Homo sapiens: one gene and its partners. The protein of the gene in region 2 interacts with the protein of the main gene of each other region in a pairwise test. Each region holds a gene or a part of one and is shown on either strand. Other genes may lie near its edges.

Evidence for each region.
Region 1: the proteins of CCNK (region 2) and USP54 interact in binary tests that used the Homo sapiens proteins (3 or more experiments, as listed by UniProt).
Region 3: the proteins of CCNK (region 2) and KRTAP19-6 interact in binary tests that used the Homo sapiens proteins (3 or more experiments, as listed by UniProt).
Region 4: the proteins of CCNK (region 2) and TLE5 interact in binary tests that used the Homo sapiens proteins (3 or more experiments, as listed by UniProt).

The regions. Positions count from the first base shown.
Region 1 is NC_000010.11:73,525,328-73,532,357, reverse strand, and holds part of USP54 (ubiquitin carboxyl-terminal hydrolase 54), read left to right. Parts: intron 1-1,522; coding exon 1,523-1,654; intron 1,655-1,834; coding exon 1,835-2,215; intron 2,216-2,446; coding exon 2,447-2,678; coding exon of another isoform or gene 2,679-2,853; exon of another isoform or gene 2,854-3,169; intron 3,170-5,577; coding exon 5,578-5,711; intron 5,712-7,030.
Region 2 is NC_000014.9:99,498,404-99,505,433, reverse strand, and holds part of CCNK (cyclin-K), read right to left. Parts: intron 5,245-7,030; exon of another isoform or gene 4,669-5,244; coding exon 4,563-4,668; exon of another isoform or gene 4,079-4,562; coding exon 4,021-4,078; exon of another isoform or gene 3,228-4,020; coding exon 3,058-3,227; exon of another isoform or gene 2,716-3,057; coding exon 2,450-2,715; exon of another isoform or gene 1,824-2,449; coding exon 1,790-1,823; exon of another isoform or gene 1-1,789. UniProt on the Homo sapiens protein: Regulatory subunit of cyclin-dependent kinases that mediates activation of target kinases.
Region 3 is NC_000021.9:30,541,011-30,546,699, forward strand, and holds KRTAP19-6 (keratin-associated protein 19-6), read right to left. Parts: upstream 855-5,689; 5' UTR 824-854; coding exon 647-823; 3' UTR 525-646; downstream 1-524. UniProt on the Homo sapiens protein: In the hair cortex, hair keratin intermediate filaments are embedded in an interfilamentous matrix, consisting of hair keratin-associated proteins (KRTAP), which are essential for the formation of a rigid and resistant hair shaft through their extensive disulfide bond cross-linking with abundant cysteine residues of hair keratins.
Region 4 is NC_000019.10:3,052,472-3,059,501, forward strand, and holds the end of TLE5 (TLE family member 5), read right to left. Parts: intron 5,272-7,030; coding exon 5,208-5,271; intron 3,886-5,207; coding exon 3,841-3,885; intron 3,256-3,840; coding exon 3,193-3,255; intron 1,724-3,192; coding exon 1,649-1,723; intron 1,570-1,648; coding exon 1,348-1,569; 3' UTR 439-1,347; downstream 1-438. UniProt on the Homo sapiens protein: Transcriptional corepressor. Acts as a dominant repressor towards other family members. Inhibits NF-kappa-B-regulated gene expression. May be required for the initiation and maintenance of the differentiated state.

The DNA of each region.
Region 1 (7,030 bases), on a different chromosome or scaffold from region 2:
TAAAAAAAATACAAAAAGTTAGCTGGGTGTGGTGGCAGGCGTCTGTAGTCCCAGCTACTCAGGAGGCTGAGGCAGGAGAATGGCGTGAACCCGGAAGGCGGAGCTTGCAGTGAGTTGAGATCGCACCACTGCACTCCAGCCTGGGTGACAGAGCGAGACTCCGTCTCAAAAAAAAAAAAAGACTTAGTTGTTCCAAGTTATTTCCTCCTCTCTTAAATCTTTCTTGTGGGCACAGAGGTAGCAAACGACCAAATAAAAGCAATACAAGATTCCAAGGGGCAACTGATTGAAAATATGTATCCATATCACTACACTGGTGATACTTGAATATGCATAAGGATTCTCATATGCTATCATGTGAAAACAAATTTTTGTTAGCTCTCCATGCATTTGACCTAGGTTTTTTTTTTCTAAGCATATCTTCAAACTTAATTTACCTGCTTAATTCATCTCTGGCTTCTAGCAATTTAGTTGCTTATATCCTTTAGAATCTGACTTTTGCTGTCATCAAATCATGCTCATGTATTTGCATACTATGGGCATGAAGCAGGGCAAGTTACATAAAAGAGCCCAGCTCTCCTGGTTTTCCCAGTGATTAGTATTAAGGAACTATGAAGTGTAATCTCTGGATGGAGCCAAGTTTCGTGAAGATGGGTTGGGGATAGGAATGAGAATCAAAGTTGAAATGCCCTTTAAATGATCCACAATTAAGGAAAGCTTGGAACTGGGTCTTAAAGCCATATAAAATCAGACCTCTTGTGGGCAAAGTCTGGAGTATCCAGGATAATACCAGATGTACTGAAAATCAGACTTTATTTGATATGTGTTGCTAAATAAATAAAAGGAAAACTCTGTCTTCAATTTATGAGAGTGAAAGTATATGGCTACCTGACATTTTTATATAATCTTTAAAACTTTTGCCTTTAAAAAGTTACCTAGAAACATGTCATTAGTCCTTCTGGGTCACTGGGGAAGATTAGGAGTGGGATTGAGATTGGTCATTGCTCAGGAGACATTGTAAATTTGGATGCTCCCAGCTTCTCTGCATTTATCTTTTTTTTTTTTTTTTGAGACAGTCTTGCTCTGTCGTCCAGGCTGGAGTGCAGTGGCGTGATCTCGGCTCACTGCAACCTCCTGGGTTCAAGTGATTCTAATGCCTTAGCCTCTCAGTAGCTGGGACTACAGGCACATGCCACCATGCCGGACTAATTTTTGTATTTTTAGTAGAGACAGGGTTTTGCCATGTTGGTCAGTCTGGTCTCGAACTCCTGGCCTCAAGTGATCTGCCCGCCTTAGCCTCCCAAAGTGCTGCAATTATAGGTGTGAGTCACTGCACCTGGCCCTTCTCTGCATTTATCTACTGGGAGGTTCCTACACTGAAATCAGATAGCCTATGCCCTACAGCTTCTGTTCCATGGGTACTCTAAATTTGTGGCACTCCCAAAGGGAGATTAGGTAGGTTCTCAGGAGGGTGGAGGTTAGTCTCAGATACCAGCTTACCCCAATTTCCTTGTTTTTTCAGGACACCTGACTGATAGTGAATGTAATCAGAAACACACATCCAAGAAAGGGTCACTGATAGAGCGCAAGAGGAGCTCTGGTCGGGTTAGGAGGAAAGGCGATGAGCCCCAGGCCTCGGGATACCACAGTGAAGGCAAGCCCTTCTGCACTGCTTCTCTTTCTCCTTCATTCACTCTATCAAACTTCTGTCATGCTCCAGACTGTTGGCTTCTCCTTTCTGTTCAGAGGGCTTTTCTTTGCTTTTTCGACATTGGGGTCTAGTATCCATGATCACTTTAAACATCTATATTTCTTTCATTCTTTGTGTTTTTAGGAGAAACACTGAAAGAGAAGCAGGCTCCTAGAAATGCCTCCAAACCATCCAGCAGCACCAACAGGCTGAGAGATTTTAAAGAGACAGTCAGCAATATGATCCATAACAGACCATCCCTGGCTTCTCAGACCAATGTAGGCTCTCACTGCAGGGGCAGAGGAGGAGACCAGCCTGACAAAAAACCTCCTAGGACCCTGCCTTTACACTCTCGTGACTGGGAAATAGAGAGTACCAGCAGTGAGTCAAAATCCAGTTCTTCCAGCAAGTATCGTCCCACATGGAGACCCAAACGAGAATCTCTGAATATTGACAGTATCTTTAGTAAGGACAAAAGGAAGCACTGTGGCTATACCCAGCTTAGCCCCTTTTCTGAGGATTCAGGTGAGGAGATAATTAGGGAAGAATTGGGCTTTTGAATAAAGTTGATTTATGTCTTTTTAAAACCTGGGTTTTTTGGTACATCTGGCAAGGGGCACTTTTACTCTGATGTCGGGTGTTTTAGGGATATGAGTTCAGTGAATAAGTAGCTAGAGGGAGGAGCTAGTTAGGTCTTGATTTTAGGCAAATGCTAAATCTACCTCATTTTCCATACCTGTCTTTTGATTGGGATAGCTAAAGAATTTATACCAGATGAACCAAGCAAGCCACCTTCTTACGACATTAAATTTGGTGGACCAAGCCCCCAGTACAAGCGCTGGGGCCCAGCACGGCCAGGCTCTCACCTTTTAGAGCAGCACCCCCGACTAATCCAGCGAATGGAATCTGGCTATGAAAGCAGTGAGAGGAACAGCAGCAGCCCTGTCAGCCTGGATGCAGCCCTGCCTGAGAGCTCAAATGTCTACAGGTATTGTTTGGCCTTTGAACAGCAACATTGTCTCTTGCAGCAATGTGAGCCACCTACTTGGGGCTTTCAGGCATGGCTGAGACAAGTGGAGGGATGGCCTTTGCTATTATCTCTATGTGCTCTTTCAACTTCCTATAACAACAGCACCCTCTGCTGGAAGAACAGAGGCACTTGAGAAAGGAGAGAGAACTTTCTATTTGAAATACAGTTATCATGTATAAAATAATTTTAAAAAATTAGGTTCAGGGGGCATATGTGCAGGTTTGTTAGGATAAACTTGTGTCATAGGAGTTCATTGTACAGATTATTTTGTTACCCACATATTAAGCTAGTACTCACTAATTATTTTTCCTGATCCTTTCTTTCCTCCCACCCTCCACCCTCCGATAGGCCTGTGTCTGTTGTTCCCCTCTGTGTGTTCATGTGTCCTCACCATGTAGCTCCCACTTATAAGTGACAATATGCTGTATTTGGTTTTCTGTTCCTGTCTTAGTTTGCTAAGGATAATGAAATAATTGTTTAGTGCTTGCTTTGGTAGCACATATACTAAAATTGGAACAATACAGAGAAGATTAGCATGGCTCCTGCTCAAAGGTGGCACAAAAATTTGTGAAGATTTCTGTATTTTTCAGATATGTAGGATAAACAAGTCTAGGGATCTAATGTAAAACATGACTACAATTAATAAAATTGTACTGCATATGAGATTCATGGTAAATGAGTAGATTTTAACTCCTCTTGCCACAAAAACAAAAAAAATGGGTAACTATATGAGATGATGGGTATATTAATTTCCTTCAATTATAGTAACCATTTTACTGTCTCTATGTATCTCATAACATCATGTTGTATACCTTAAATATACACAGTAAAAAAATGTATTAAAGAACAGATTAGGTCAGGCATGTTGGCTCACGCCTGTAATCCCAGGCTAGCACAAAAATTAGTGAGGCATGGTGGTGGGCGTCTGTAATCCCAATTACTTGGGAGGCTAAGGCAGGAGAATCGCTGGAATCCAGGAGGTGGAGGTGGTAATGAGCCGAGCTCGTGCCATGGCAACTCCAGCCTAGGCGACAGAGCAAGGCTCCATCTCAAAAAAAAAAAAAAGAAACAAAAACGGACTAGGCCTGCCGCAGTAGCTCACGCTTGTAATCCCAGCACTTTGGGAGGCCGAGGCGGGTGGATCACGACGTCAGAAGTTCGTGACCAGCCTGGCCAACATGGTGAAACCCCGTCTCTACTAAAGATACAAAAACAAAAATTAGCCGGGCGTGGTGGTGGGAGCCTGTAATCCCAGCTACTTGGGAGGCTGAGGCAGGAGAATTACTTGAACCCAGGAGGTGGACGTTGCAGTGAGCCAAGATCGTGCCATTGCACTCCAGTCTGGGCAACAGAGTGAAACTCCATCTCAAAAAAACAAACAAACAAAAAAAGAATGTATTAGTGGGCCAGGCGCGGTGGCTCATGCCTGTAATCCTAGCACTTTGGGAGGCCGAGCTGGGTGGATCACAAGGTCAGGAGATCGAGAACATCTTGGCCAACATGGTGAAACCCCGTCTCTACTAAAAACACAAAAATTAGCTGGGCATGGTGGCGCGCACCTCTAGTCCCAGCTACTCTGGAGGCTGAGGCAGGAGAATCACTTGAACCCGGGAGGCGGAGTTTGCAGTGAGCCAAGATCACGTCACTGCACTCCAGCCTGGGTGACAAGAGCGAAACTCCATCTCAAAAAGAATGGATTAGTGAATTAAAACTTATGTAATACTAAAATCAGAGAAGAAGCCCAAATGTTATTTTGGGACAGTGTTTTGTTGTCGTTGCTTTTTTTTTTTTTTTTTTTTTGGTATCGATGGGGTTTCATCATTTTGCCCAGGCTTGTCTTGAACTCCTGGGCTCAAGTGATTTACCCACCTCAGCCTCCCAGAGTACTGAGATTATAGGTGTGAGTCACCACACCCAGTATGGTGGGATAGTTTTTATTTTGATTTGTTTTAGGGTCACTGGGACTTTGTGTTTTATAATGCTAATAATATTCATAATAATGATGACAGTTTATTAGCACTCATTGTACCCTGCCCATAGGGCTCAGTTTGCTTTATAACTTTCAAATCTCCATACATTATTTTTACTGAGTTGCCACAGAGGCAATTTTTCTGTTTTCTTTTTTTTTTTTTTTTTTTTGAGATGGAGTGTCTCGCTCTGTCACCAGGCTGGAGTGCAATGGCACGATCTCGGCTCACTGCAACCTCTGCCTCCTGGGTTCAAGCGATTCTCCTGCCTCAGCCTCCCTAGTAGCTGGCACTACAGGCGCCCACCACCACACCCAGCTAATTTTTGTAATTTTAGTAGAGATGGGGTTTCACCATGTTGGCCAGGATGGTCTTGATCTCTTGATCTCATGATCCGCCTGCCTCAGCCTCCCAAAGTGCTGGGATTACAGGCATGAGCCACTGTACCTGGCCAAGGCAATTTTTCTAATAGTAGAGCTGCTTTGAAAAGCATGATTATATCTTCTACAAAGGTGATAACCACATGTTCATACTCTGTCAATGTTCTTCCCTGTCCACAGGATCCTGTTGAGTTTTACTTATGAGAAGATGCTACAAAGGTTTAGTAAGAAAGAAGGAAATAAATATGAAACCAATATGTTCATTAGTACATTCAACAGATTTTGAATATGTATTATGTACCAGATACTGTGCTAGATGCACAAGTTGTGAATGAGGTGAGATGAGGTTAGATAGGAGAATGAGTGGATATTTCAATTCTTCAGAAGTAGTTTAGCAGAAGCTCTAATTGTGTAGTTTGATTTTTTTTTTTTGAGAGAGAGATTTAGTCCTAGGAATGTTGCTATAACCTGCTTTCATGCTTTCACTAGACTCTGAGTTCTCTTTTGAAGGGATCCAAGTGCTAAGAGATCAGCTGGGTTGGTTCCTTCCTGGCGTCATATCCCAAAGTCGCACAGCAGTAGCATCCTGGAGGTAGACTCCACAGCATCCATGGGTGGCTGGACAAAGAGTCAGCCTTTCTCTGGTAAGCAGAATGACACTGAATTTGAGGACTGGATTTGACCGGCAGTTTTGTCTGGGGACCAGACTTACCTGAGCACATTTGAAATTAGAGGACAGTTACAGGCCGGGCGCGGTGGCTCACACCTGTAATCCCAGCACTTTGGGAGGCCGAGGCAGGCAGATTGCCTGAGCTCAGGAGTTCGTGACCAGCCTGGGCAACATGGTGAAACCCCGTCTCTACTAAAATACAAAAAATTAACCAGCGTAGCGGCGTGCACCTGTAGTCCCAGCTGCTCGGGAGGCTGAGGCAGGAGAATTGCTTGAACCTGGGAGGCGGAGGTTGCAGTGAGCCAAGATCGTGCCACTGCACTCCAGCCTGGGCGACAGAGTGAGACTCCATTTCAAAAAAAAAGAGGACAGTTACAGTTTGAGTATTCCATCAGAATGTAAATGTAGAGTCATTTCAGTTGCTCCATCTTTGGATTTATCTATTTTTTGTTCTCCATCACAGCCTGCATGAATATTTCTTTCTACCTGGAGGGAGCCCTTGTGGGAGCAAGAAGGGACAGAAATATGGTGAACAGTGTTACTAACATCCCCATTCTTCAGAAGAATAAATCCTAGGGCTTTCCTTGGATTAGGGACAGCCTCTTGGGAAATGGATTTCTTATTGTTTAGTATTATGAATTGACATACCAAAGGGGTACATGTGGCTATTTGCAAAACTTGGAAATAAGCAATTCAAATTTATCCTTACCCCTGGCTAAATATCTTAGTCTTACTACCAATTCTCTTGATAGTTACTGACAATTCTTAGAGGTAGCAGGAAGAAAGGCCTGCAGCAGCAGTAGTAAAAAGGCATGAACCCTTTTAGGTATGTATACTAAAGGTTGTGGACATCTGGCAGAGCAGAACAATGCCTATAGAGGCAGATATCTCTGGAATCCTGGGCTCTAGTAAGTTATAGTTAGAGACACGTGGAAGACATTTGGGCTTCCCATTGTAATTATACATTTGATTTATTCCCCACATTTTAATTTATTTCATGTTGAATAACATTGTTTCAAGAAACTTGTGAATCGTGCATGAGACTATTCTCCCTTCTCTTCAGATAGCCAGCATTTTTTTAATTACACTAATGACTGAGTCTCATGATCTCCTGAATAGTCCTCAATTCTGGACCAGTTGGATAGAATTCACCAACAGCGTTCTTCAACTGGTAAAAGATAATTAGCAAGGAGTTATGACAAGATTCTTCACACACCATATCACCCCACCATCCTGTTTGTATAATAAGCCCTATTTATGCGCCACAATTTGATCTAACCATTTTATTAAGAC
Region 2 (7,030 bases):
TTCTCCTTTCTTGGAAATCTCTGTGTATTTTGCATTGTCAGTGCTTCAGAATTTGACCCAGTCACATTTCGAGTGCTTGCAGCCCTCTGCAGCCAGTAGCCTTCGGCATGGCACAGTGCAGCTGAGTTCCTCTATAAAGCTTCCTCCGGATCTGCCCTTCCTGCCCCGCAGCCAGCATGCTGAGGCCACCATGTTTCCCATGAGTGCCAGCAAGATTCTCCCCATTCCTAACCACTTGCCCTATTTACTGCTGCCAGGGGACTCCTTCTCAAATGAATTTAGACTCTGCCATTCCCCTGCTAAATCTCCAATGGCTTCCCTTGCCTCTGCCAAACTCACAGTCCTCCAGGTAAACTCTGTGATCTGGTCCTAACCCACATTTTAGATCCTATCAGAAGCTATTGCCTTTCAATTCATCACATTCCAGAAAGACTCCTCTCCATTTCCCCTGATTCTCAATTCCTTTGCTCACTTGCGTACTTCCAACTTATTGCTCCATCCTCCCCCTCTGCTCTCGCTGCTCAAATGCAACTCTTCCTTCAAGGTCATATATAGTTTGTTTCCTGCCTCTGACAGACCTGCACGTCAACTCAATTGCATTTCATGTGGCATGGAGTGTAGCCCGTTCTTGTGTCTAACATTTAATGTCGGTCAATTTGAAGCTAATTAAAAAATTCACCTGTAGGCTGGGCACGGTGGCTCATGCCTGTAATCGCAGCACTTTGGGAGGCTGGGGCGAGCAGATCACCTGAGGTCGGGAGTTTGACACCTGCCTGACCAACATGGAGAAACCCTGTCTCTACTAAAAATACAAAATTAGCCAGGCCTGGTGGTGCATGCCTGTAATCCCAGCTACTCGGGAGGCTGAGGCAGGAGAATTGCTTGAACCCAGGAGGCGGAGGTTGTGGTGAGTTAAGATTGCACCGCTGCACTCCAGCCTGGGCAACAAGAGTGAAACTCTGTCTCAAAAAAAAAAAAAAAATTCACCTGTACTGAACTCATCATTCCCTCAAATATACTGGAAAAAAAAAAAAAGTAGCTCTATCATAACTGGAAGATTTCACAGCAGTTTAATGAATGGAACTAAGAACCGAGAACATGGTTCTAAGAACCAGGAACTACTGGAACTAAGAACCAAGTAACAAAGAAAGACAAATGAGTCAATAGGGTCTGTGCCTTCAAAGAGTTCAGTATGATAGGTGGACTGACCCTGTGACAAAACATTTCTAACTTTCTGTTTTGTAATTGTTCCAATTTTGCTCACTCCTTCTGTTTATTTCCAATATTGACATGAACTAACTTTGGGTTCTAGACATGTGACAGCACCTCAACCCAAGTGTGTTTCAAAGAGGCCTTGCCTGCAAGGGCAGCTGGGCTGGGCCGGGCTGGTGCTGTCCGGGCAGCACACCACCCCCTACTGCCCCCCCGCATCTGCTGTGGCTTGGTGCTTGGGAGAGGACTCCTGCTGCTGTGATGGGGGTAAATAGTCTCTAAAAATAAAATTGCAGCAACAGTTCTCCTACAGCCATAATTATACTTTTATATATGTTACTGAGTACATTTTTATTGCCAGTAATGTTTTCTGTACTGATAGCTTCGTAAGAGCACAATTTTAGAATCTATGATCAGGTGATGAACAGAAAGACAATGCTGATGGAAAAGTTTTGTATGAGCTCTAAAGTTAAGATTTAAGGCCAATTTAGATCTGAAAAGAAACAATGTTGGCTAAGAATTTAAAGTTTTGCATATAAACACATAAAACTAAAAAAACATCAGAACAGGAAATTACCTGCTGCTTTGTTCTCTTCTTTGGGAGAAACAACCTGTTACAAAAGAAAATACACAATTGTTAACTGGGATCCTGAGTATGATGAGAAAAAAATGGATTATCCAGGTACCACCAGAATCAGCGACGGCAGTCACTGTGAACAGCCTCGGACAAAAATTATTTCTAGCCTGAACTTTCAGGGCAAACCACGGCACCTACCAGATCATCATTTCTGCTCCCTTCCTCTTTCCATTTACCAAATAAGACAGAATGACTAGCTTTCCTGAATGGTGAGTTCTGAGTAAACACTAAGTTTCAGGACCACTTGGGTGCAGGAAACGGTCCACTGTTTGGGGTCAGGCAGCTGCACAGAAGCAGCATGCACAACGACACTGCTAGGACACGGCAACGACACCGACAGGCTTCAGAACCCTGGCAGGGATGAAACAGGCAGCAGGGCTGGAGCCGGGCAGAGAGCCCCCTCCTGGTTCTCAGAGGCAGCCTGTCCTTGGAGCACCTTTGTTTTCAGGCTCCCCACCGACAAGCAGTCGGACTGCGAGTTTCGGCGAACACCCCCTGCTTCCGGTGTTCCCTGTGCTCGCTTAGAAATGGGAACAGTGCTCAGGTGTTGCCGCCACCTGGAAAGCCTGCTCTACCCAGGGCCTGCTTTAGCCCACTCACCACGGCTCGCTTAACCTGTCGGGGAGAACTGGGCTGCGGAGAGGGTTTCTTGGGCTGTTGGGCTGGCTGCTGCTGCTGGGCTGGTTGCTGGGGGTCCTTCTGCTGGGGCTGGGATGGTTCGGAGCTTTGAGACGGCTGTGACTGCTGTACTTGCGGCACTTGTGGTGTAGGCTGAAGAGATGGGGGCTGTTGCAGCTGATGGGGGGTGTGATGAGGCATCTGTTGTTTTCCTTGTGAGTAAAGATCCAGGATTTGGTGGCAGATGTCTAAATGATAGCCAACAATTACATTTTACACAAATTGGTATTTTAAATAAAATTTTACCTGGATAAAGAATCAGTTATGATACCCCTACGAGGACCTAAGCATGAATCACATTTACAACTCACCCCATCTTCGTTGTGTGCAACACTGGTGTGTATTTTTAGTTTACCAAAAGTATGTGTTTGGACAAAGTGGAAACTATTAGATAATTTAATTAATGATGCTTCTGAAATATTGCTCACATATGTCTATCTGGGAAAATCCATTCTTGGGACTCAGGGTACACATGGAAGAATCATCTCAACATGGAACACCCTCACGAGAACGCTTAGCATGCCTGGTACCTTCCAAAACGTCGACCGGGACATCTTGAACAAACTGCTCCCACCATCTCCTATACATGGGTTTGGAGGTCCATTCTTGTATTTCAAATTTGCACAAACGTCCTGCGAGATACATCACTGCTACTGCTATGATCTCTGGTTCCCACTGCAGTGACAAGGTGGTGCAGAGACTAGTTCAACAAGAAAAAAAAAGGTTAGATAATATGATCTAATATTTATGATTAAACCAGTGCATGGAGATGCCATAACTAACCATTAATTTGCTTATTCTCCCCTAAATTTAATTAAAGTACTATAAATAAATAAACTCAAGTCTTTACTCTTCTAAAGGTACCCGACTAAGTTACTTTAACCATAGTTAGTAATTTCTCTATTCCTTAAAGAATCAGAAGAATTCTAGCACATCCAAAAATTGCTACACCAATGAAAATGACTTATGTTATTTAAACTGTTGAAATCCTAGCCACTCAACTGTTTCTTCAAATGAAATCTTATGGAGGAAGTCAAATGTAAGAGAAGCTTCACTGACTGCAGTGGGATGGGGCTGGCAGCAACTCCATTCACAGGCATTCTGTTTCCCACCACGGCCCCTCATTAGATCCCTGGCCTCTCAAAAGAGTGTTAAGGCTCTAAAACTATACCAGGAAGTATATTTTTGCAAAACCAAATGGGCTCTAAGTAATTAGTTTTCAAAATTCTCCAGTGTATTGTTTTGGACTTATGTTTCAGACTGGTGATAAAATTTCAGCACCTCACAACACCATGACACGGCAGGGCAGAAGGAAACCCTCTGCCGGGAAGCAGATGACCTGGACGTCAGCCCCAGCTTTGCCATTAACTGGCTCCTCAAGCCAGGGCAAGTCAGTTTCTTCTGACACAAAATGAGGGGTTTAGATGAAATGGTCCATAAAGTCTCTGCCTATTTTAAAATACTGTAATTAATCAACATTTGAACATGTATACCTGTCATTTACAAATGTCCATGCCATTTGAACCAACTTTTGAATTTTGTTTTTATCACCTAGAAATGGGGACAAAAAGGTAAATTAATAGCAATAGAAAAATTCACAGGCAGCATCAAGTATTTATTAAAAACCTACCACGTGTTCAGCACCACTCAAATACACAGCAAAGAGCTTTTGCGTGGGAAACAAGGATGAATGATGTGGGTCCACATCCTACCCCTTCTTCCTCCTCATGACCTACGCTGAACCACCATGTATGGAAAACCTGGCTCCAAGGCTAAGTTTATTAGTCCATTTAAAAAATTCTGCCTCATTTTCCTGCCTCTCCCATCACTTGGCAACTGGATGACAGAGCCTGTTTATACATAAAAGGAAACAGCATTAGCAGCTGCAATGCTGAATTGACTGAGCAAGCCATGCCCTTGGTATTTCACACATCAAACTTTGTTTTCCGCTTTTGAGAAGCGTAATTTGAGTGTCATCAAATTATAAAGACTTGATTTCAGAATGAAAAAATTCTTCTGAAAACTTTCTTCTTACCTTTGAGTTGCTTTGCATATTTTAGTAGGAACTGGTATGGATGTTCTACCTGTAAATCAAACTTGATGGTCTGCAGTAAGATTCTCTCCAGAACCATTACTTCCTCCTAAAAATCAATCACAAATGTTAGGACAGTAATTACAATTGCAGGTCTCAAGCAGCATTACAAAAGTGAGCTTTCCTGTCTATTTATTCTCTCTTCAAGTTATATTTTAGCAACTGCCTTTCCTTCCTTTCTCTCCCACTCAGACTTTTAACATGCTCAGAGACACTGATAAATTCTGAAAAGATCTCAAACAGGAAGACAAAGCAGAGGTGTAATGTAAAAAAAAATACTGAAAACAAAAGATCCTTAAAAATATTATTATTTTCAATACATACATGAGTCTCCCTTTACAAAACAGATCTTTACGTTATTGATAATTTGACTAAATTGTAATTTCTTTCAAGACCTCAAATTTTAAAAATGCAATCTTTTAGGAATTTTCATTGAAAACATTTTAAGCAAGAAAGAGTTTATGATAGCCAGCCTCATGAAAACTCAGAGATAAATTGTACCAGTGTGTGTGTATGTGTGTGTATATATACTCATGTACACATATAGTGTATTACGTGCAAATGGGGGCAAATCAATTTTGTGTTTAAATCTTTCATTTATTTGAAATAAATCATCCCAACAACACTTACTGAATAAATGATCATTTCCAATTTTATTTAAAATGCTACCTAAATCACCTCCTAAACTACGTGTGTATGTCTGCCTACACACACACTATCTTTTCTGTTCACTGATCTGCCTGTCTACTCCTGGACCAGGATCAAAGGGATTTGGGTGGGATACAATAGCTCCAGTATTACTTCTCTTTTTCAAACAGTTTCTGGGTTCTGCATGTCCCCCTCACTCAAATTTTAGTAACCATTTTACTTAGTATCATTACAGAAAACATACATGCTATTAATATTCTCATTGGAAACTCAGAGGATTTATAGAATAATTAGGGAGAATGGAGATTTTTAACCATATTGAAGTTTCCTTCCAAAAATTTATTAATATCTTTTCAGTCCTTTAGTTGTTTTAAAGTCCTTTCCACCCCACTAACGAGGTTTCCACAAGGTTTAACCTTGGATATTTTACTGTTGCTATCGTTAATGGAATGTCCTCTTTGATGATACTCTCTAACTAATGTCTTGAACTCAGCCCCTGTACAGCCGACTGTACCTACTGCTTAAAGACAACATAAACCACAACCAAGACACTGTGTGCGGGGAGGACAATTTGAGAGAATTCCTTGTTTGGCATCAAAGACAGGGCGTTGTAGAGGACTGTAAATCTCATCAACAGGTGCAGAGACCCACAGGTCACTGGCTTTCATTTAGAAGCATGGTATTATTTTATAGGATACAGAGATGATTCTATAATTATTATTCCAAATTACATGGCAAGACTAAGGTTTTTCAATCTTAGTTTCCCAAGCATTTTCTCATGAAAGTTTTTTAAAATCTTAGAAACTTTCACACAGTGTAAAAAAAACTGGGCTGGACATGGTGGCTCATGCCTGTAATCCCAGCACTTTGGGAGGCCGAGGCGGGCAGATCACTTGAGGTCAGGAGTTCAAGACCAGCCTGGCCAACATGCTGAAACCCCACCTCTACCAAAAATATAAAAATTAGCCAATCATGGTGGCAGGCGCCTGTAGTCCCCTACTTGGGAAGCTGAGGCAGGAGAATCGCTCGAGCCTGGGCGGCAGAGGCTGCAGTGAGCTGAGACTGTGCCACTGCACTCCAGCCTGAGTAACAAGAGTGAGACTCCATCTCAAAAAACAAAACAAAACAATTTTTTTCTTTGAATGTCATTGTCACCACCTGCTTCCCAGAAGCTTCAACACTTCCTCTAAATTTAGAAACAATTCTTTTTACCAAGTGTACCAATTGGCTTGCAGGCTGTAGCCCACATACTGTTACAGGATAGCCCAGGGCCTGCCCTCCCTCTGTCTTCCAAATATTCAATTAATGGGGTCATTATAGGTCTTTGAGCAAACATCATTCCTCAGGAACGCCTTCCCTCAGCCCCTATTTATCCGGGGGACTTGCCTGGGTCCCTGGGTGGAATGCTATCACAGCACCTTAAATGACCTTTTACAGCGTACACCACAACTCATCATCAAATAGTTATATACTCATTTGATTAAAATTTATCCTGCCACTCAACTGCAGAGTCCATGAGAGCAGAGACCATGTCTGTTCTGCCTCGTGCCTCATGTCTAGTGCCCAACACAAAGGCTGAAACGAATATTACAGAGAAAAGCCACACAATTAAAATAAAGCTAATTAAGGCAAAAAATGTTCCATGGGACTCATGATCTTATTTTTCCTAAATACTTATACTGCCTCCACTAAAGAATTGCCCTCCTGTCTGCAGAGGAAAACATCTTCCCCAATGTCTTCACTGCTCCCAGCTCCAGGTGTTT
Region 3 (5,689 bases), on a different chromosome or scaffold from region 2:
TGCTTTGAGATAAACCTCAGAATACAAACACACTAATTGGAATGAAGATTGCAATAAGTTATTGTTTAAAACTAAGTCATAAAAATAATAGTGTACATAATCATATTCTAAAAACAAAATCACACACAAAACCACTGAAAACAGATAAAAAGTAAAGACAGATGAAAGTACACAGTGATTTTGTCCATCTTATTCTTTTATATCTTCAGGACTTAGAATGGTGCCCAAATTTGGAGACACACAATGAATATATGTTGAATAAAATATATTATTGAGGCAAAACTGTTGAAATAAAAACACCAATTCAGAGGAAAGAAGACAAACAGCTTGATTGAAGTCTCATCAATGCATTTGAAATGTACTAAAATGAATTGATAAAGCCATGTTTGCTATTCAAGTTAAACGTGTTTATTTAAAACTATTTTAAAATACATGTCACAACAGATGTCAGTGACTAAATAATAATAGGTGAAACCCTGATTCAATGTAATGATTCCAGATTCTTCCATAAAAACTGATGGCTAGTTCCTTCTGGAGCATGAAGCCAAAAAATGGTAGGTATTTTCTCTACATTGAGAAAAGTGTTCGCCTTGCTGAAGCATACGGGCAAGATCTTGGAGTTAGAGTATGAGAATCAGCAAGTTTTTTAGTAGAATCCAGAGAATCCATATCCTTCACGGCATGATGGGCGGCAGCAGCCATATCTATAGCCTCCATAGCCAGAGCCATATCTGTAGCCTCCACAGCCACAGCCATAGCCCAGACCACCAAAGCCTCCACAGCCATATCCCAGGCCTCTGTAGTAGCTGCCATAGTATCTCATGGTGTCAGGGACTAGAGATTCAGTTCAATGCTAATGATGAGTTTCCTGAGTGTAGGTGTCTCTAACTTCTCAGAATGATTTTATACTCTAAGTAGTGGGTGTCATGAACAACAATGACAGGTGATCTTATTTCCACATAACAGAATAATTTTAAGTCTAACAATTGTTTATTTTTTTTCTTTTCTTATGTAACAAAGGGTCCAAACTATTATTTAAAGACTTTTAGTCTTTAGTTTGCATTCCTAAGAACAAAATATTTTGAAGATGAAAAATGATTATAGCCACTTCAAAGGCCAGGCTGGTGTTGTAATTAAAATGGTCTAATCGGGTTGATAGCTTCCAGTAACGCTGTAATTACATAACCTCATATTGCTTTTCTTTTTAATTTGCAGTCCATCGTCTTGGTTACTTCATTCCCAGAACCCAAGGACTTCTCTTCATGGTAGTCAGGGCATAGTCACAAAGTCATTAGTGATTTCCAGTAGTCAAATTTAGAGGAAACCTTGGTTTTTGACTCATTTGAACTTTAATTGACCTTTGACATTGCTAACCTTCCATCCATTCATTCTTTTGTAAAGCTTTCTTGCCTTAATTTCTATGAGAAACCTTCAATTAGCTTCCTCTGCCAATTTTTTGTTAGGCTTCTTCCCAATTTTTTATTCATCCATTAACTTCAAAAGTGTACCTTTTCCTCTGCATACACTTTTCCCATGAAGTTCCATTAAATATTATTTTTCTTTTTTCAAATTTTATTTTTAAGAATACATAGTAGAGTATATATATCTATGGGGTATATGAAATACTTTTATACAGACATGACAATGCATACTAATCACTGGTTAATGGAGTAATAATCACTGGTAAATGATAAATAGGGTATCCATCCCCTCAAGCATTTATCCTTTGTGTTAAAGCAATTCAATTACACTCTCTTATTTTAAAATGTTCGATTAAATCAATAATTTAATTTAAATGCAATTTAATTATACATTTTAAAATAACTAAGAGAGTATAACTTAGTATGGCCACACTTTTGTGCTATCAAATACTAGGTCTTATTCATCATTTCTATTCCTTTGTACCCATTAACCACCCCTACTCCTCCATCACTCACATCCCTCCCCACCCCTACCCTGCACCCACCTACTCCCCTTTCCATTCTCTGTTAACCATCCTTCTAGTCTCTATCTCCATGAGTTCAATTGTTTTCAATTTTTAGCTCCCACAAATAAGTGAGAACATACAAAGTTTGTTTTTCTGTGCCTGACTTATTTCACTTAGCATAATGACGACCAGTTCCATCCATTCTGTTGCAAATGACAGGATCTCATTATTTTTTATGGTTGACTAGTACTCCATTGTGTATACATACCACATTTTCTTTATCCATTCATCTGTTGGTGGAAAATTAGGTTGCTTCCAAATCTTTGCTATTATGAACAGTGCTGCAACAAACATGGGAGTGCACATATCTCTTTGATATACTGTTTTCCCTTCCTTTGGATGTATACCAGGCCTCCATAGTAGCTGCTGTAGTAGCTCATGGTGTCAGGGACTAGAGATTAGGTTTGATGCTAAAGATGAGTTTAGCACCAGCAGTGGGATTTCTGTGTCATATGGTAGCTTCATTCTTTGTTTTTTGAGAAACCTCCAAACTGTTCTCCATAGTGGTTGTACTAATTTCCATCCCCACTAATAGCGAATGAGGATTCCAAAACATCTATTTGGTTCTTTTGTCCATTTCTAATCAGATTATTAGATTTTTTTTTTCCGTACAGATTTGTTTGAGCTCCTTATATATTCTGGTTATTAATCCCTTGTCAGATGCATAGTTTACAAATATTTTCTTCCATTCTGTGGGTTGTCTCTTCATTTTGTTGATTGCTTCCTTTGCTGTGCAGAAGCTTTTTAACGTGATGTAATCCTATGTGTCCATTTTTGCTTTGGTGGCCTGTGCTTGTGGAATCTTACTCAAGGAATTTTTGCTGAGACCAATGCCCTAGAGAGTTTCCCCAATGTTTTCTTATAGCAGTTTCATAGTTTACTTTTATTTAAGTCTTTAATTCATTTTGATTTGATTTTTGTATATGGGGAGAGATAGGGGACTAGTTTCATTCTTCTGCACATGAATGTACAGTTTTCCCAGCACTATTTATTGAAGAGACTGTCTTTTCCCATGTGTATGTTTTTGGCACTTTTGTCAAAAATGAGTAGGTGTCTGAACTTGTTTTTGGGTTCTCTCTTCTGTTCCGTTGGTCTATGTGTCTGTTTTTATTACAGTACCGTGCTGTTACTGGTTACTATCGCTCTGTAATATAATTTGAAGGTAATGTGATCCTTCGTTTTGTTCTTTTTCCTCAAGATAACTTTGGTTGTTCTGTGTCTTCTTTGGCTCCTTAAAAATTTTAGAATTTTTTTTTCTATTTCTGTTAAGAGTGTCTTTGGTATTTTAATAAGATTGCATTGAATCTTTAGAGCACTTTGGGTAGTATGAACATTTTAACAATATTGATCCAATCCATGAACATGGAATATTTTTTCCATTTTTTGTGTCCTCTTAATTTTTTCATCAGCATTTTATAGTTTCATTGTAGACGTTTTTTACTTATTTGGTTGCACTAATTTCTAAGTGTTTAAATTTACATGTCACTATTGTAAAAGGGATTACTTTTTAAATTTCTTTTTCACATTGTTCACTGTTGGCATATAGAAATGCTACTGATTTGTGTATGTTGATTTTATATCCTGCAAATTTACTGAATTGTTTATCAGTTCTAATAATTTTGACTGAATCTTTAGGTGTTTTTAAATGTCAAATTACATCATCTGCAAACAATGACATTTGACTTCTTCTTTTCTAATTTGGATGTACTTTATTTCATTCTCTTGTCTCACTGTTCTGTTTAGCACTTCCAGTACTATGAATAAATATGGTCAAAGTGGTCACCCTCCTCATGTTCCAGATATTAGAGAAAAAACTCTCAGTTCCTCCATCCCCCCTTTTTTTGTTTGAGATGGAGTTTGGCTCTTGTTGCCCAGGATGGAGTGCAATGGCGCGATCTCGGCTCACTGCAACCTCCACCCCCCGGGTTCAAGCGATTCTCCTGCCTCAGCCTCCCAAGTAGCTGGGATTACAGGCCTGCGCCATCACACCTGGCTAATTTTGGATTTTTAGTAGAGACAGGGTTTCTCCATGTTGGTCAGGCTGGTCTCCAACTCCCGACCTCAAGTGATCCATTCGCCTTGGCCTCTGAAAGTGCTAGGATTACAGGCATGAGCCACTGTGCCCGGCCCTCCATTTTTGTAATAAAGGAATGTTGTTATATCAAATGCTTTTTTTAGCATCAATTGAAATGATCATATGGTTTTTGTCCTTCATGCTGTTGATACAACACATCACACTGATTGATTTGTGTATACTGAACTGTCCTTGCATCCCTGGAATATATCCCACTTCGTCATGATGAATGATCTTTTTAATGTGTTCTTTGATATCATTTGTTAGTATTTTGTTGGGGATTTTTTCACCTATATTCATCAGAGACACTGGCCTGTACTTTTCTTTCTTCGATGTGTCTTTGTCTGGTGTTGATAACAGGGTAGTACTATCCCTGTAGAATGAATTTGGAAGTACTTCCTACTTCTCTATCTATTGGAATAGTTTAAGTAGGATTCATATTAATTCTCTTTAAATGCTTGGTAGAATTCAGCAGTGAAGCCATCGAGTCTCAGGCTTTTCTTTACTGGAAGACTAATTACTATGACTTTGATCTCATTACTTGTTATTGGTCTGTTCAGGTTTCAGAGTTCTTCATGGTTTAATCTTGATAGGTTTTATGTGTCCAGGAATGTGCCTATTTCCTCTAGATTTTCCAATTTATTGGCATATATTTGCTCATAGCAGCTATTAAAGATCCTTTGAATTTCTATAATATCAATTATAATGTCTTCTTTTTTATAACTGATTTTAGTTACTTAGATCTTCTCTCTTTTTTTCTTAGTCTGGCTATAGCTTGTCAATTTTGTTTATTCTAAAAGCAAACTTTCATTTCATCGATCTTTTGTATTGTTTTCTTCATTTCCATTTTATTTATTTTTCCTCTAATCTTTATTATTTTTTTTTCTTCTACTAATTTTGGGTTTGGTTTAGACTTGCTTTTCTAGTTCTTCAAAATGCATTGTTAGGTTAGTTATTTGAAAGTTTGATTCTTTTTTGATATAGGCAGTTAGAGCTGTAAATTTCCCTGTTAATACTGCTTTCACTTTATCCCACAGGTTTTGGTAAGCTGTGTTTTCGTTACCATTTATTTTCATAAGTTTTTCAATTTCCTCCTTAATTTCTTCATTGAACCACTGGTCATTTAGAAGCATATTGTGTAATTTCCATGTATTTGTATAGTTTTCAAAATTCCTCTTGTTATTGATTTCTAATTTTATTCCATTGCAGTCAGAGAAGATGCTTGATATTATTTCACATTTTTTGCATGTTTTAAGATTTGTTTTGTTATCTAACATATGGTCTATTCTTTAGAATGGTCCATGTGCTTAAGAGAAGAATGTGTATTCTGCAGCTGCTGGATCAAATGTTCTGTAAATATCAATTAGGTCCATTTGGTCTACAGTGCAGATTAGGTTCGATGTTTCTTTGTTGCTTTTCTGTACAGAAGATCTGTACAATGCTGAAATGCTTTTATTGAGGTCTATCTCTTGCTTTATCCCTAATAATATTTGGTTTATATATCTGTTTGCTCCTATTTTGGGTGTGTATATATTTATAATTGTTATACTCTCTTGCTGAATTGGCCCTTTACCATTATATAATGACCTTGTTTCGTCTTACAATTTTTATTTTAAGGTCTATTTGTC
Region 4 (7,030 bases), on a different chromosome or scaffold from region 2:
GCTGGAATTACAGGTGCACGCCACCATGCCCGGCTACTTTTTGTATTTTTTTTTTTTTTGAGATGGAGTTTTGCTCTTGTTGCCCAGGCTGGAGTGCAGTGGTGCGATCTCAGCTCACCGCAACCTCCTTGAATTCAAGTGATTCTTCTGCCTCAGCCTCTTAAGTAGCTGGGATCACAGTTGCCCACCACCACGCCCAGCTTTTTTGTATTTTTAGTACAGACAGGGTTTCACCATGTTGGCCAGGCTGGTCTCGAACTCCTGGCCTCAAGTGATCTGCCTGCCTCAGCCTCCCAAAGTGTTGGGATGACAGGCGTGAGCCACACCGCACCGGGCCACAGCTAGGAACTCCTGATGTTCTAGGAGGATGTCTCACATTGGAAGGAACCCCGTCCTCCCCCGGGGGCAGCCACAACACAGAGGCAGGGACACAGCACCGAAGCTTCTCACATCTTTATTGGAAAGGCACAGCTAAGCCCACCCTTGATACAGCATTTTCCACTTCTCTCTGTAGAGATCAGACGATTGAACACGAGATAAGCTGACTATATACAGACACAGGTGTGGGTGTTGCTTTTTTTTAAAAACACTTTTGTCTTTTTTTTTTTTTAATATCCCCTTTCTTAAAAGACAAGCTAGTATACTGGAAAAAGAAAAAAATAATAATAAAATAAAAACCAAGACAACTTTAGTACCCTCATCTTTATTTGGGAAGGGGAGGGGGAATCCTGGGTCGCCCACCCTCACCCTGCTCCTCCCAGCTCAGCTAAGCTCGTCCCTCGTGCCCCCCCTTTTGTGGGCGATGGGAGAGGACCAGGTGGGCGTGGAGGTGTCTGGAACTAGCAGAGGTGGTGAGTGGGGCAGGTGGAGGTGGGAGCATACCTGGGACCCGGGGTCGGGGGAGACTCGGGGTGCCCAGGACGGGAAAGGGGCAGCTAGCATTGCGTGCATGCAGTACCAGGGTGAGAGGGCTGTGGCCCAGGCAGACTGTCGGTTACACATGTTCAAAACGGGGGAAGGGCCGGGGCTGCTGCGCTTCGCGAGGTCTTGCTCCCTTGGGACCTGGTCTCCCATCTGACCCTCCAGGCCTTAGCTTGCCTCACATGTCAGGGCAGGTATCCACCTAACCAGGCTGCAGGGGAGGAGGAGGGAAGCCGGGAATGGGGTAGGAAGAAAGCTAGAGGTGGCCTGCAAGCTGGGCTGGGGCCCCCGCCGGCGGCCACCATAAATACTATGGGAGTTTAGCCAATCCCGAGCTCCGCTGTGTCTTGTGCTAAACATTCCTTTCTCTCCGTGCCTCTGTCTCCCCTCTGTCCCCCCTCCCAACCTCCCTGTCCCGGCCCCCTGCTAATCCGACTTCTCGCCATCATCCTCCTGGTGGGTGTCACCATCGTGCCCGTTCTTGTCTTCCTTGGAGAGGTGGGCCTGGGAACCCAGCGCGGACAGCGAGAGGAGGCCGGTGCCTGCGCTGACCGCCGGCAGCGAAGGCGGCTGCAGCCCCACGGGTAGTGGGGTCAAGGGCAGGGCCAGGGCCTGCAGCTGGGACAGCTGGTGGGCTTGGAGCTGCTGCTGCAGGGCGGGGGAGGGGAACATTAGCTGCCTGGGGCCCACCTGTCCCCCGCCCACCCGCCCAGGTCCCCATACATACTCGGATGATAGAGTTCAGCTCGGGAGCGGTGACCTGCTTGGCCCTCTCAATGGCTCCCAAGACCTGCTGCTGGTGCTGGAAGGGGGTCGGGGGAGAGGAGAGGCAGTGATTCCTCCTGATCCTGGGAGAGGAGAGGGGGACGGCCCTGAGGCCAGGAGGAGCCCCACTACCAAGTGGGCCATCATGTCTGCTCCTCCCAGTGGTTTTCAACCCCATCAGAAAGCACCCTCCCTCTCTCCAACTGCTTCCTTTCACCAAGCTCGTCTCTTCGTCTGGCCAACAGAGACAAATGGAAAAGTGCAGAAAACAATTAAAAGGGTTTTGTGCTAAGTAGTTAGGAAACAGCTTTTGAGTGAGCCCGGGAGAAACCCTGGATCCTGACCTATCCTATGTGCACAGCCACCTGCAAAGATGTGAAACATGTGAATGTTTGTGCAGTACACAACCTGCCCAACTGTACAGGGACGTCCTGATCCTAGGAGCTCCAAGACTGTGCCCTGAGTCTGGCCAAATTGAGCCCTTCTCCTACCATGGCTGGGGAGGGCCCAATGAATTCTGGCAGGGCTGGCTGGGGAATGGGCTCAGATTCAGGGCAGTTCCTCCCTGAGCTCTCCCCAAACACCTGACTCTGTGGCCAGCAGATGCTAGAATCTACCAATCTCCCTTTTTGCCTTGGCTACCAGGAAGCCTCTGTTCTGAAGGGCTCCAAGTGCCCTTTTCTCTAGGGCTTTCATTGGGTCCTGCTAAGACTTGTCCCTGGGCAAAGCAGGGCACCCAAAGGATCCTGAGATACCCACAGGGATTGAAGAGGAAGTTACAAACTTTTGACAGTAAACTTGGCAGGGACAGGAGATGGGCCTTACATGGCCCTGGGGAGGGGCGGCCTCGCATCCTGAGCCTCAGAACCCAAGAAAGGAGAAGAGGAGCTGGGCGTCAGGTTCATCTGGGTGTGTGTGTGCATGTGGTAATGTGTGCTCAGGATCACGTGTGCCCACGTGTAGCTGCACATTCCTGCATGCGTGTCCCTGTGCTGTCTGCACACACGTGTATCCGTGTCTGCATCTGTGTATCTCCCGTGTGTTGATGTGCTCGTGCCTATCTGTGTGGCTGTGTCCATGTGTGACCACCCTGTGCTACCCCTTCCCCCACAATCCCCTAACACCCTCTAGTCCTTGGTCCTGTGCAGCCCGCATGGCCTGGAGGAGGATGTCTCAAGAGGGTGAAAGGAGGAAGAGAGATGAGAAAAAAACATTCCTGGTGCAGTTTAGGCCCATCTGACATTTCTACCTATGACATGACTCACTCCAGCTGGGAATTCCAGAGCAGGGTGAGGCCCGCCCCCCACACGCCTGCACCCCTGGAGTGTCTCTGGCCCGGGGATTCTTCTGCACAGGCCGGCTCTGGTGTTCAGAGCCAGGGAGGTCCAGAGAGGGGAGGCGTGTGCCCTGGGGCGCCCAGCACACCACCCAAGATGGCTGCAGTGGACAGGGGCTGGGCAAGTGCGGGGCCCCCTCACAACCCCTCCCCAAGGCCCTGGCTCTTACCTCTTGGGAGAGGTAGGGCAGGACCTGGGCACAAATCCCGTTCAGCCTTTTGACGATCTCAGCCTGGAACACACAGATGAAGCCGGCTTCAGTCCTGGGCGGGTGGCAGGTGCAGGCTAGCCACAGGAGGCCTGCGCGGGGCCCGGCCCAGCCCTGCCACTTGCGGCTTCTAAGAGGGGCTAGGTCTGGCCAGGGTGGGATGAGCAAAGCCGTGTTCGGGCCCGAGGGCAGCCAGTCAGTGGCAAAGGTGGGGCTGGACACCGGCTGTCGCCTGCAGCTTAGAGTGAGGTAAGTGCAGGATGAGGCCAGACTGCACATTCCTCGGGGGTCGGCCACTCAGGCCCCTGGCAGGTAGTAAGCGCTTGTGCGAATGTAGGGAGGGCTGGGGGCCGTAGGCTGTGGGGAAGGTCTCTGCCCCTCCCCACCACCGGGAGAAACACTCCCAGGGAGGCCTGAAAAAGAGGCGGGGCGGGGGGGAGGAGAGCGGGAGCTTGGGGAGGGCTTAGGAGGTAACAGGATAACCGGGCTGGCTTGGTGCCCAGCCGAGGGCCGGCCGCTACCTGCCTGGGGGTGCCCAAGGCGGGGCTGGAGGTGGGGGGAGGAGGGGGAAGGAGGAGGAGGAGGAGGAGGAGGAGGAGATGGGCGTACCTGTTTGTGCATCTCGATGTTCAAGCCGTAGGACATCTCGTAGTACTGTATGGGGGAGAGAGAGGGGGAGCGGGAGATGGGGGTGGGGAAGGATGGGGGGACACGGAGACAAAGAGATAGGGGAGTGGCAGAGACAGACAAAGGGGGGAGACAGCAAGAGACAGCTGAGGGCAGGAAAGAAAGGAGAGGCAGGTGGGAGGGAAAGAGGAGGGAGAGACGCCCACACCCAGCATCCCAGCCCGCCCTGGAGAGGGGCAGGGGGCCGCTGGGGCTGCGGATGGAGACTGGGGGCACTTTAGGTCCCTAGCCCTGGCCTGGCTCCTCCCCCACTCCATGTGCACCGCGAGAACACGCATTCCAGGGCTCCTAATCTTGTATCTTTCTATGTCTTGTCTGCGGGTGGGCCCAGACGCCAGGGAAGTTTGCCTGCCTAGGTATAAACAGTGAGGGGTAAACAAAGCCTGCTGGCTCTGGGGCCAGCAGCTACCCCCACCCCAAGCCCCAGATCTCACCCTGCCCCTCCCCTGCTCTAAACCCTCCCATGGCTCCCTGTCACCCCTGGGGGAAAACCAAGTTCATTCCCAGGCCTTCACGTAGTTTCTCTGTCTCTGTCTGGTGAACTCCTACTCATCCTGCAAGACCCCAGCTGTGTGCCCCATTTCTCCATATAGTCTTCCTCAGGCAGGTCCTAGGTCCCTCTCTCTGACCCCAGCCCTATTCTTCTGGCTGGGAGGGTCAGGGTCTGGCTCTGCCTCCCCCACAGTCTGGGAGATTTGGGTACTGGGCTGAGACCCCAGCATCGCTGCTCGAGGGCCAGGCCAAGGGTGGGTAAGGGAGGGGATTTTTGATGCAGAAATCGTCACCTGGCAGTTACAAAACCGAGCAAGTGGTTCTGGCAGCAGCAATGCAGTGTCACACATCAGCCCCCCGAAATGGGTAGGGCTCAGACCCCCTCCCACAGGCTTCTTCTTTGAGCTCGGGCCCAAAGGGGTTAAGCGTGTGGACGCTGGGACCTTGGCGGTGGGGAGGGACTCGGCTGCTCCCCCACGTCAGTTCCTGGCTGTTGGCTTTCACAGCCGGTGAGCCTCCCTCTCCTCCCTCCTCCGCTGCCAAGGACAGCCGGGGGACCTGGCAGGGCCGGTCTGCAACCCGGCGGTTTGGCACCTCGGCCACTGCCTCGGCCATCTGCCAGGCTAGCGAGGCAGGCTCAGCCCAGCAGGGGCCGGCTGAATGGAGAACAGGCCCCGATCCTCGCGCTTCCCAGGGGAGGTGGCCGGGGTTGAGGGAGCAGCTGCCCGTGGTGGAGGGGATGTGGAGGGCCCTGTCGCCCGCCCCCAACACTGGACCTGGGGGCGGAGTGACGTTACCATCACATAGTGACGCTGCATCTCTGACTTCTCACTGGCCAACTTGTCACATTCGAGCTTGAGGCTGAGGAGGCACAGGGGGGAGATGGGGTGGTTAGTGGCGGCTGGGCGGGAGCCCCCCACCCTCCGTTATCCAGGGGAGGAAACTGAGGCTCCAAGTCCCCTGTAAGGGCAAGATCAGCCAATTCTCAGAGGGTCAAGCAATAATTTTTTTTTTAAATTGAGACGGGGGTCTCCCTATGTTGCCCAGGCTGGTCTCAAAAACTCCTGGGCTCAAGCAATCCTCCTTCCTCGGCCTCCCAAAGTGCTTGGGGTTACAGATATGAGCCACCCACCGTGCCTGGTCAATGAAGCCGTAAACTTTCATAGGGGCTGAGGACATTGAATTGAGGGGCAGGGAAGTTGGTAAGAGTTGAGCTCTCTGTGATGCTGCGGGGAGGGGAGAGCATCAGGGCCCCTGACTGTAAGAAGGGGGTGATGAAACCACCCTTGCAGATCTGGTTGGGGGGAAATAAGCAACATTATAGTAACATTATAGGAACAACAGAAGTTAGAGGGGGCACGGTAACGCTAGCTCTGAGAGTCTCACGAGCCTTCACCTCTCACGGTCCCGACGAGGCCCGCAACGTCATTGTCACGCTCCTTTTATAGATGACACAGTGGACACCCAGAGAGGGTGAGGAACTGGCTCAAGGTCACACAGCCAAGCAGCAGCCCAAGCTCTCAACCACAGGGGAAAATTTTCCAGACCCAAATAGAACGTACAAAGAGGCTGAGAGGGTCTGGGGCTGCAAGGCGGCTCCCGGCTGGACTTCCCAAGGGGACCCTAGCTTCATGGGGGGCCTGGACTTCCCAGGCAGACCCCTCAGCTCCCTCTTAGTCCTTCCTAACAGCCTTTTTTCTTTAGCTGGGACAAAACACACCATTTCTCCCACTCCACCTGGCCAGTCCGGGTGGCTGACACCAGAGCTTCCTACAGGCCCTCCCGGGAAGGATGAGCTGTGGGGCGTTTCTCAAAGCCCCCATGAGGGCGTCATGGCCGGAGGGAAGAGAGCAGGCAGGAGGGCCTCCCAGTCCAGGAAAAGAACTGGTGATGGTGGTGGGGGAGGTGTCCTTTAACCTACTTAAATCCAACCCAGCACAGGGGCCCTGCGGACCTGGCTGTGGCTTACCTGCTTCTGCCATCCCCACCCCCTCTCGGACTGGGTTCAAAGCTCAGCCCTTCGTCTTCCCTGCTGTGTGACTCTAGGCAAACTCCACTACCTCTCTGGGCTTCATTTCCTCCTCTGTGAGGTACCACTAACAACCTCGCAGGGTGGGGTGGAGAAGAGTCAATGAATTCAGACAAGAAAAGTTCTAGAACAGTACCTGGCATACAGTAAGCATCCCATAAATGCACATGGATCTTAGGATACCCCAGGAACCTGGCATTTTGCTCCACCGGAGAAGAGTGTGCCGGGTTAGGGATGCTTTGGCCGCCACCAATTTTTCTCTAGTTTTCTTTTAAAATGTGCATTTGTTGCTACCATTAAAAACAAAAACAAAAACAAAAAAAAACCGGGGCTGGGTGCAGTGGCTCACGCCTGTAATCCCAGCATTTTGGGAGGCCAAGGCGGGTGGATCACTTGAGGTCAGGAGTTTGAGACCAGCCTGGCCAACATAACGAAAGCCCGTCTCTACCGAAAATACAAAAATTAGCCGGGTGTGGTGGTGCACGCCTGTAATCCCAGCTACTTGGGAGGCTGAAACAGAAGAATCGCTTGAATCCCAAAGGTGGAGGTTGCAGTGAGCCGAGATCGCGCCACTGCACTCCAGCCTGGCGA